2 linked regions of the Homo sapiens genome follow. The protein of the gene in region 2 interacts with the protein of the main gene of each other region in a biochemical or structural test. Each region holds a gene or a part of one and is shown on either strand. Other genes may lie near its edges.

The links.
Region 1: the proteins of DNA2 (region 2) and RBBP8 form a complex in vitro, tested with the Homo sapiens proteins (one study listed by BioGRID).

What each region holds. Positions count from the first base shown.
Region 1 is NC_000018.10:22,991,998-22,996,025, reverse strand, and holds part of RBBP8 (DNA endonuclease RBBP8), read right to left. Parts: intron 3,279-4,028; coding exon 2,387-3,278; intron 2,306-2,386; coding exon 2,179-2,305; intron 1-2,178. UniProt on the Homo sapiens protein: Endonuclease that cooperates with the MRE11-RAD50-NBN (MRN) complex in DNA-end resection, the first step of double-strand break (DSB) repair through the homologous recombination (HR) pathway.
Region 2 is NC_000010.11:68,469,174-68,473,299, forward strand, and holds the start of DNA2 (DNA replication ATP-dependent helicase/nuclease DNA2), read right to left. Parts: upstream 2,801-4,126; 5' UTR 2,713-2,800; coding exon of another isoform or gene 2,692-2,712; coding exon 2,618-2,691; intron 991-2,617; coding exon 808-990; intron 1-807. UniProt on the Homo sapiens protein: Key enzyme involved in DNA replication and DNA repair in nucleus and mitochondrion.

The sequences.
Region 1 (4,028 bases), on a different chromosome or scaffold from region 2:
ATACTGGGACCCTCACATACTGCTGGTGGGAATGTGAAATGGTGTAGCTGCTTTGGAAAACAGGCAGTCTTTCAAAAGGTAAAATGTAGAATTGGCATATGGCCCAACAATTCCACTCCTAGGTATAATCCAAGAAAAATGAAAACATACATCCACACAAAAACCTGTATACAAATGTTCATAGCAGCATTGTTCATAATAGCAAAAAAGTGACAACTTGAATGTCAGCTAATAAATACCTAAAATATGGTATACTTATGCAATAAAAAATTATCCAATAAAAAGAAATAAAATATTGATATATGCTGTAACACAGATAACTGAAAACATTATGCCAAGTGAAAGAAGTAACAAAAGATCATATATTAAACGATTCCATTTATATGAAAACTCCCAGAATAGGCAAATCTACAAAGAGAGAAAGTAGATTTAAGGTGCCTAGGACTGCAGAGGGTATATGGGGAAGGAAAGTGATGAAAATGTTGTAAACCTAGACTACAGTGATGGTTGTACAACTCTGTGGGTATACCAAACCACTGAATTGAACATTTTAATGGGTGATTTTTATGGTATGTGATTTATATTTCAATTAAAATTTTTTAAAATTAAAAACTATAACATTGATGGGGTTTTCAATATATGTAGATAAAATACACAGGAACTACATAAAGTGTAGTTACAGAACATGAAATAGTACATTAACTCCAAGTAGATTGTAAAAGGCTAAGTAGGTAGATACTGTAATCCCTAGAGCAACCATGAAAAAAATAAAAACAAAAAGCTCAAAAAAAATCATGAATGATAGTGAAAAAAATGTTTTCATATAGAGACTAAAACACTCACTGGAAAAACAACTAATGACTGTGCTTCAGGAAAAAGGGAAAATAAACCCAGAATAAAGGAATAACTTGCCAATGAAGAATACAAGAAAAAATACTGCACTTGAACTACAGAAATGTTTGGTGGCTGAAAAAAAAAATTACTTTTTTAAAGATAGCAGGCTGGGCGTGGGTGGTTCACACCTGTAATCCCAGCACTTTGGGAGGCCAAGGCAGGCAGATGGCTTGAGTCCAGTAGTTCGAGACCAACCTGGGCAACAAGGCGAAACCCAGTCACTTCAAAAAATAAAAAAATCAGCTGGGTGTGGTGGTGCATGCTTGTAGTCCCAGCTATCCAGGGGGCTGAGATGGGAGGATCCACCTGAGCCTGGGAGGTCAAGGCTGCAAGTGAGCCGTGATCATGCCACTGCACTCCAGTCTGGGTGACAGAGTAGGACCCTGTCTCAAATAATAATAATAATAATAATAAAATATAGCAAAATTATGAAAAGATGCCTATATATCTTAAGGCAAACAATTTTTTTTTTCTTTTTTTTTTTTGAGACGGAGTCTTGCTCTGTCACCCAGGCTGGAGTGCAGTGCAGTGGCACGATCTCGGCTCACTGCAAGCTCCACCTCCCGGGTTCACACCATTCTCCTGCCTCAGCCTCCCGAATAGCTGGGACTACAGGCGCCTGCCACCATGCCTGGCTTATTTTTTGTGTTTTTAGTAGAGATGGGGTTTCACCACGTTAGCCAGGATGGTCTCGATCTCCTGACATCGTGATCCACCAGCGTCGGCCTCCCAAAGTGCTGGGATTACAGGTGTGAGCCACCGTACCGGGCCAACAATGTTTTTAAAGGAGTTTAAAAACGTATATAAGTGGCCGGGCGCAGTGACTCACGCCTGTAATCCCAGCACTTTGGGAGGCCGACGCTGGTGGATCACGATGTCAGGAGATCTAGACCATCCTGGCTAATGTGGTGAAACCCCGTCTCTACTAAAAATACAAAAAAAAAAAATTAGCCGGGCATGGTGGGCGCCTATAGTCCCAGCTACTCGGGAGGCTGAGGCAGGAGAATGGTGTGAACCCGGGAGGCGGAGCTTGCAGTGAGCCGAGATCGCGCCACTGCACTCCAGCCTGGGCGACAGAGCGAGACTCCGTCTCAAAAAAAAAAAAAAAAAAAAAAAAGAACAGAAAAATCACCGGTAAAATGTGAGAATCGTCCTATAAATACAGACACCTGAAGGAAGAAATAAGTTTTTTTCCAAAACAATTCAATCTATTTAAAAAAGTAAATAATGACATTCAATCTGAAGTCATTAAAAAAGTGGAGATCCTGTTTATGGTGTACACACCTTGGTTGTTTTGTAGAGACTTTATTTTACCAGTTCTACATGGATTTAACTGAAGAACTGATGCAAGTTCACATCCTCCATGGTCTGACCTGGTTTGTATTTTTATTGGCTCATGAGAACCAGCACTCTAAAACAGAAATAATTGTTAGCTCTAAATGAAATCACAAGCAATCATTTTAATCAAAATCCTTGAACATTTAACACAAACCTTTATGTCATCTAAAACATTCTCAGTCTCCAAACTTTCACGTGGACGTAGAGGAATTTTAAAGACAGCATTTTCTTCTTTTATTTGTAATGATGGTTTATTGTCTGGAGAGCATTTATTCAAGGGCTGAAGGATGATGCATTCCTGTGAACAGGGCTCCCCTGGGGAATCTTTGGGCAACGTGCAGTTGCCATCTGAGGCCTTACGGCTTGAGGAAAAGCCCTTTGGAATGGTCTTCAAAGCCTCATAAAGAGTCACTTGCCTAAATTTGTTTTTAGAAGTCTCACTTCCTTGGCTTTTCTCTTGACGCTGAATAGCTGAAAATCGATCAGACAGATCCAGAGGTTTATCCATCACACAGTCTCCATTCATGGAAAACTGATTATCCATTGGAAAAGGGAAAGCATTTTCTTTATCAAAAGAAGCTTGGGGGCAGCTTACTTCATGTTCACTTTCTTCCTCAGTTTTCTTCCTTTTGGATGTTCGGCCTCCCAATGATTTCAGGGGCTCCAAATGTTTATCAGTGTTAGAATCTTTACCGTACTCAGTCCTATTCTGTTCACCTAGGGATTCACTTATATTTTTATTTATAAGTATCTGTTTATTAGATGACTGGATAATGATCTTGTTCACTTCAGACCCAAGACTGTGATGTGTGAAAAGGGCACTATCTTCAGATTTTGATCTAGTTTTTTCTAATCTAGATATACAAGTGTTGCTAAAAGGGAGTGTTTTCAGATGTTTTTTTTTCCCAGGCTGTAAAAGAGAAGGGGACAAACTTGTATTCAAATCTAAACCACTTTTGATACTAGAGGTAGCTCCAAATACAGGAGATGACACTCGAGTAGGTAATTCTTCTTGAGGAGGAGTCTTTGAAGTAGAATCTGAAAATCTAAATAAAGAGTGATAACAATTCTTTAATACAGAATTAATAGTAAGGTCTTATCTACCTCTTAGAAGCAAATGATTAACCAAAATTTAAGACAAGGTACAGCTTTTGGCTTCTCTTCATTTAGATGACAAAAGAGAAGGGGAAAAGCAGAGGAAAATGACATAGGAAGTATTTCTCAACACCATAATATTCATATTTTAAAAATTTTTCCTAAGTACTTTAAATAACTTTATTATACAAAAAATCATCTTTTGCCAGGCGCAGTGGCTCATGCCTGTAATCCCAGCACTTTGGGAGGCCAAGGTGGGCAGATCACTTGAGGCCAGAAGTTCGAGGCCAGCCTGGCTAACATGGTGAAACCCCATCTCTACTAAAAATACAAAAATTAGCCGGGTGTGGTGGCACACGCCAGTAATCCCAGCTACTCTGGTGGCTAAGGCACGAGAATCACTTGAACCTGGGAGGTGGAGGTTGCAGTGAGCTAAGCCTGGGTGACAGAGTGAGACTCTGTCTCAAGAAACAAACAAACAAAAATCATATTTTAATAAATTCCACTGAGAACCTAAGTTCTTTTGTTACGACATTTGATCATGAGTAACTCCAAGAAACAAAATTCTTACACTACAGAATTGAACATAAATTAAGATTCAGCCTGTCTCTAGCAGAGGAAATATGCGTAGAAAGAGCAGTAAGTTTGAAGATGTGGGCTGGGTAAGATCTCTGGCTCTACCACTTAATAGCTATGTGGCC
Region 2 (4,126 bases):
AGGCCTAAGAATGTCCATATGTTTTAATTAATTTTGCTTTTAGTTAAAACTAACATGTGTTTAAACTGCAATCTTAGAATGTACTGGGAAGGCCGGGCGCGGTGGCTCACGCCTGTAATCCCACCACTTTGGGAGGCCGAGGTGGGCGGATCACGAGGTCAGGGGATTCGAGACCATCCTGGCTAACATGGTGAAACCCTGTCTCTACTAAAAATACAAAAAAAAAAAAAAAAAAAAGAATGTACTGGGAAATAGGAAGTAGTCATTAATAAGGTCCTTTGTACGTGATTTTCTTTTCTTTTTTTTGAGATGAAGTTTCGCTCTTGTTGCCTAGGCTGGAGTGCAATGGCATGATCTCAGCTCACCACAACCTCCACCTCCCAGGTTCAAGCAATTCTCCTGCCTCAGCCTCCAGAGTACCTGGGATTACAGGCAAGTGCCACCATACCCAGCTAATTTTTTTTTATTTTTAGTAGAGACTGGGTTTCTCCATGTTGGTCAGGCTGGTCTCAAACTCCTGACCTGAGGTGATCCGCCTGCCTTGGCCTCCCAAAGTGCTGGGATTACAGGTGTGAGCCACCATGCCTGGCCCACGTGATTTTCAAATGACAACAAAAGTCAATTTTTGGAATATGAGACTTGAGATACAGGAGTAATAGATACAATTTTCATGCAGAATTAGGCTAAGATCAAACCTACTCCCTTTTAAACAATTAAATTATAGTAACATTCACAGAAGCCATTTGATGAGTTTTACGACAGTACCCTTAAGATTCAAATCGGTGCTCAAAGTCACATAAAAATTACCAGTCATTCCTAAGGATGCATAGTTCTTTATTTTCTAGTGACTGTGAAGCAGTGATGACCAGGCGCTTTTCACAGTTTCCCTCTTTGTTCTGTACAGTATTGACTGCCAACACCAGGTACCGGTTATCCATTCCTGTGCTCAGAACTGTTCTTGGAAAGGAAGCTACCACTTTCTTCTGAAATCTAAAGCACACACATACAAAACTATTTTAGCACAACCATGAAATAAGAAGCCATCCAATATGTTTTATCTACAAACCAATCTTCCAGTTTTCTAGGTTTCTTTCTTCTGAAAAGCTTATTGCAATGACATTTAGACAAAATAGGTAAAATTAAGAGAGCAAAGACACAGAAGAATTCCTATTATAAAAACTTCCCAGAAGTAATGCCATTTCAAACATGCTCATGATATGAGATTTTCCATTTTAATTTCTGTAAAGCGTTCTGTGGGACACTCATTACAATGAGGATTAAGAATAAACTGGAAGCCAGGCATGATGGCGCACACCTGTAGTCCCAGCTACTCAAGAGGCTGAGGTGGAAGGACTGCTTGAGCCCAGGAGTTTGAGGCTGCAGTGAGATACGATCATGCTACTGCACCCCTTCCTGAGCGACAGAAAAAGACCCCGGTTCTGGCGGAGAAAAAAGAAAGGAAAGTATAAATTGGACAACATTAAACAAGAAATTTCTACCACTGGTGCAAGCCTTCCCAAAGTACAAGTAAAAGGAGATGTTTTGGACACGATCCTTTTTGTAAATATGAGACTTATGTTACGGAAAAGGGTATTGTCCGTGGTTCACTGAAAGTCCTATCATGAGCCACAGAATTGTACTTAGAAATAATTTAGTCCAACCTGCTAAAGTAATGCCGGAAATCTTTCGATAAAATCTCACTGGACAGAAAGCAGGCTTAATACCTATCGATTTAGCTCAATCCTTTACAGAGTAATTCAGAACTTTATTACTTATATTTATAGTGGGTAAGTCAATTTGTCAATACTTTCATCCATCGGTCCAAGCTGTCTAAAATTATGCAAAATAATAATCTCTCAAGAAAACAGCCCTTCTCCTATTAAGTACCTCTTAAGTCTTCCCCGTTTGACTGAGGCATCAGTGAGGGACCAAAGGAGGGTCCAAAGTCATTACCTCTCCAGTGATAACACCAAACGCCTTTCACATTACACTGCAAGTTATCTTTTGTTACCTGACCGTAGGTTCTATTATTTTGCAAACGCTTTATTCCTGTAGTCCACCTAACCTCAGGCCATGAATTTCGCAAGATTGGCTATGATGCCTTAAAGATGTTTCTCAAAAGGTATTGCTGATCAAAAGCCCAAACGCAAAAGTCCCTCAACGCTAATTAGCATTATTGCTATAATATTGAAAGTAATTCCACATTATGACCGTGGTTAACTTCCTCTGATCATTTATATACACCATGCTGAGGGTGCAGAGATCCCCCAAGGATAAGTTAATCCAACTAAACATCGAGAAAAGCCTACGGCGGTTGCAATTTCCTATTATAAAAACATTCCAGTGGCCGAAACTCCTCAACTTAGGGAGAGAGGTGAAATCAAGGGAAACAATGAACTGCTCGGCGAGGGAGAGTCCAGGCTCTGGCTGAATGTGGCCCCAAAGAACACCTTGGGAGGCAGGCCCCGACTCCGGAGGCTCGTCGGGTGCCCAGGGAGCTGCACCGGGTCCCTGGGCCCCGGGCCCGGTCAGTCTGAGGCGGTGCGGACGCAGCCTCTCCCGCTCCTTCTTTCAAATCTCCCGCTTTGTTCCCACACCCTCCCCCCTCTCCGCTCACAGCTCCGCCGGCAGCTCCGCCTCCTCCCAAAAACTCTTCTCCATCAGCAGCTCCAGTTCGTTCAGCTGCTCCATCCTGGACGCGGGGATCGCAAACTGTAGACAGAAAAGACAGCGGAACCGGGGGTAACACAGAAAGCTTAGAAAAGGGAAAAAGGCGCGAGCCTGCGCACCTCGCGCGCATGCGCCAACCCGCAGATGTCCCAAATGACCTGCGCCAGGCCGCCCCTCCCGCGCCGGCGCGTTCCACGTGGGGCCCCTCACCTGAGCAGCAGGGCTCTGTCCCCTGCCTTTGCTCCCTTGCTTAGGACTGGGAATACAGGGAGTCTTCATATCTGAAGCAGACTAAACGCTCCTGCCTTCTCTCTTGACACTCCAACCCGTGTCCGAAACCTCCCGGGTTCACACCATTCTCCTGCTTCAGCCTCCCAAGTAGCTGGGACTACAGGCGCCCAGCTTAGTTTGAACACAACCTTTACACGCTTAGTTTGAACACAACCACATTTGTAGTTGCCCAAAACCAGGCGCCCCTGGTTAGCCTTCAGAATTGTGCACTCCCTGGGAAACAGCCTCTCCCCTTTTTTTCAGAAAACTTATTGAGAAAATAGAAACTGTCGGATAGGAACTCCTTGATCATGCCACGGCTAAATCTACAAAACTTCTGGCCAGGCATGGAGGCTCACGCCTGTAATCCCAGCACTTCGGAAGGCTGAGGCGGGAGGATCACGAGGTCAGCAGTTGAGACCAGCCTGGCCAACATGGTGAAACGCCATCTCTACTAAAAATACAAAAATTAGCCGGGCGTGGTGGCATGCGTCTGTAATCCCAGCTACTCGGGAGGAGGCTGAGGTAGAATAAATTGAACACGGGAGGTGGAGATTGCAGATCCTGCAACGGCACTCCAGCCTGGGTAGAGCGAGACTCCGTCTCCAAAAAAAAAAATTCTACAAAACTTCTAATATCTGCACCATTCTTCATAACCTCTTTCCACCTTTTTTCAATAGCAGACAAAGTGTTCTTCTGGTTAAAGGGCAATCGCTCCACTTGCACTTGGCATCCCAGGGCTTCAAGCATTCTCAAGGGCATCGCTTCTTCAATTATTCTCTTGTATCATCAGCCTCGCCCTCACTATTGGATTGAGCCTCTAATATGGCCTGGTGTCTCCCATTTTTAAAAGATGTTTCCTTGCTGGGCACAGTGGTGTGCACCGATTTTTGATATTTATATACTTCTCTCATCTGGAGGCACTGACAAGAACATCCAGAGCCATGTTAAATATCAGTGGTATAACTGTTATCCTGATTTTTGTTATTCATTTTTTAAATAGATAAAATGCGCCGGGTGCCCGGTGGCTCAGGCCTGTAATCCCAACACCTTGGGAGGCCGAGGCGGGTGAATCACTTGAGGTCAGGAGGTCAAGACCAGCCTGGCCAACATGGTGAAACCCAGTCTCTACTAAAAATATAAAAATTAGCCGGGTGTGGTGGTGCACTCCTGTAATCTCAGCTAC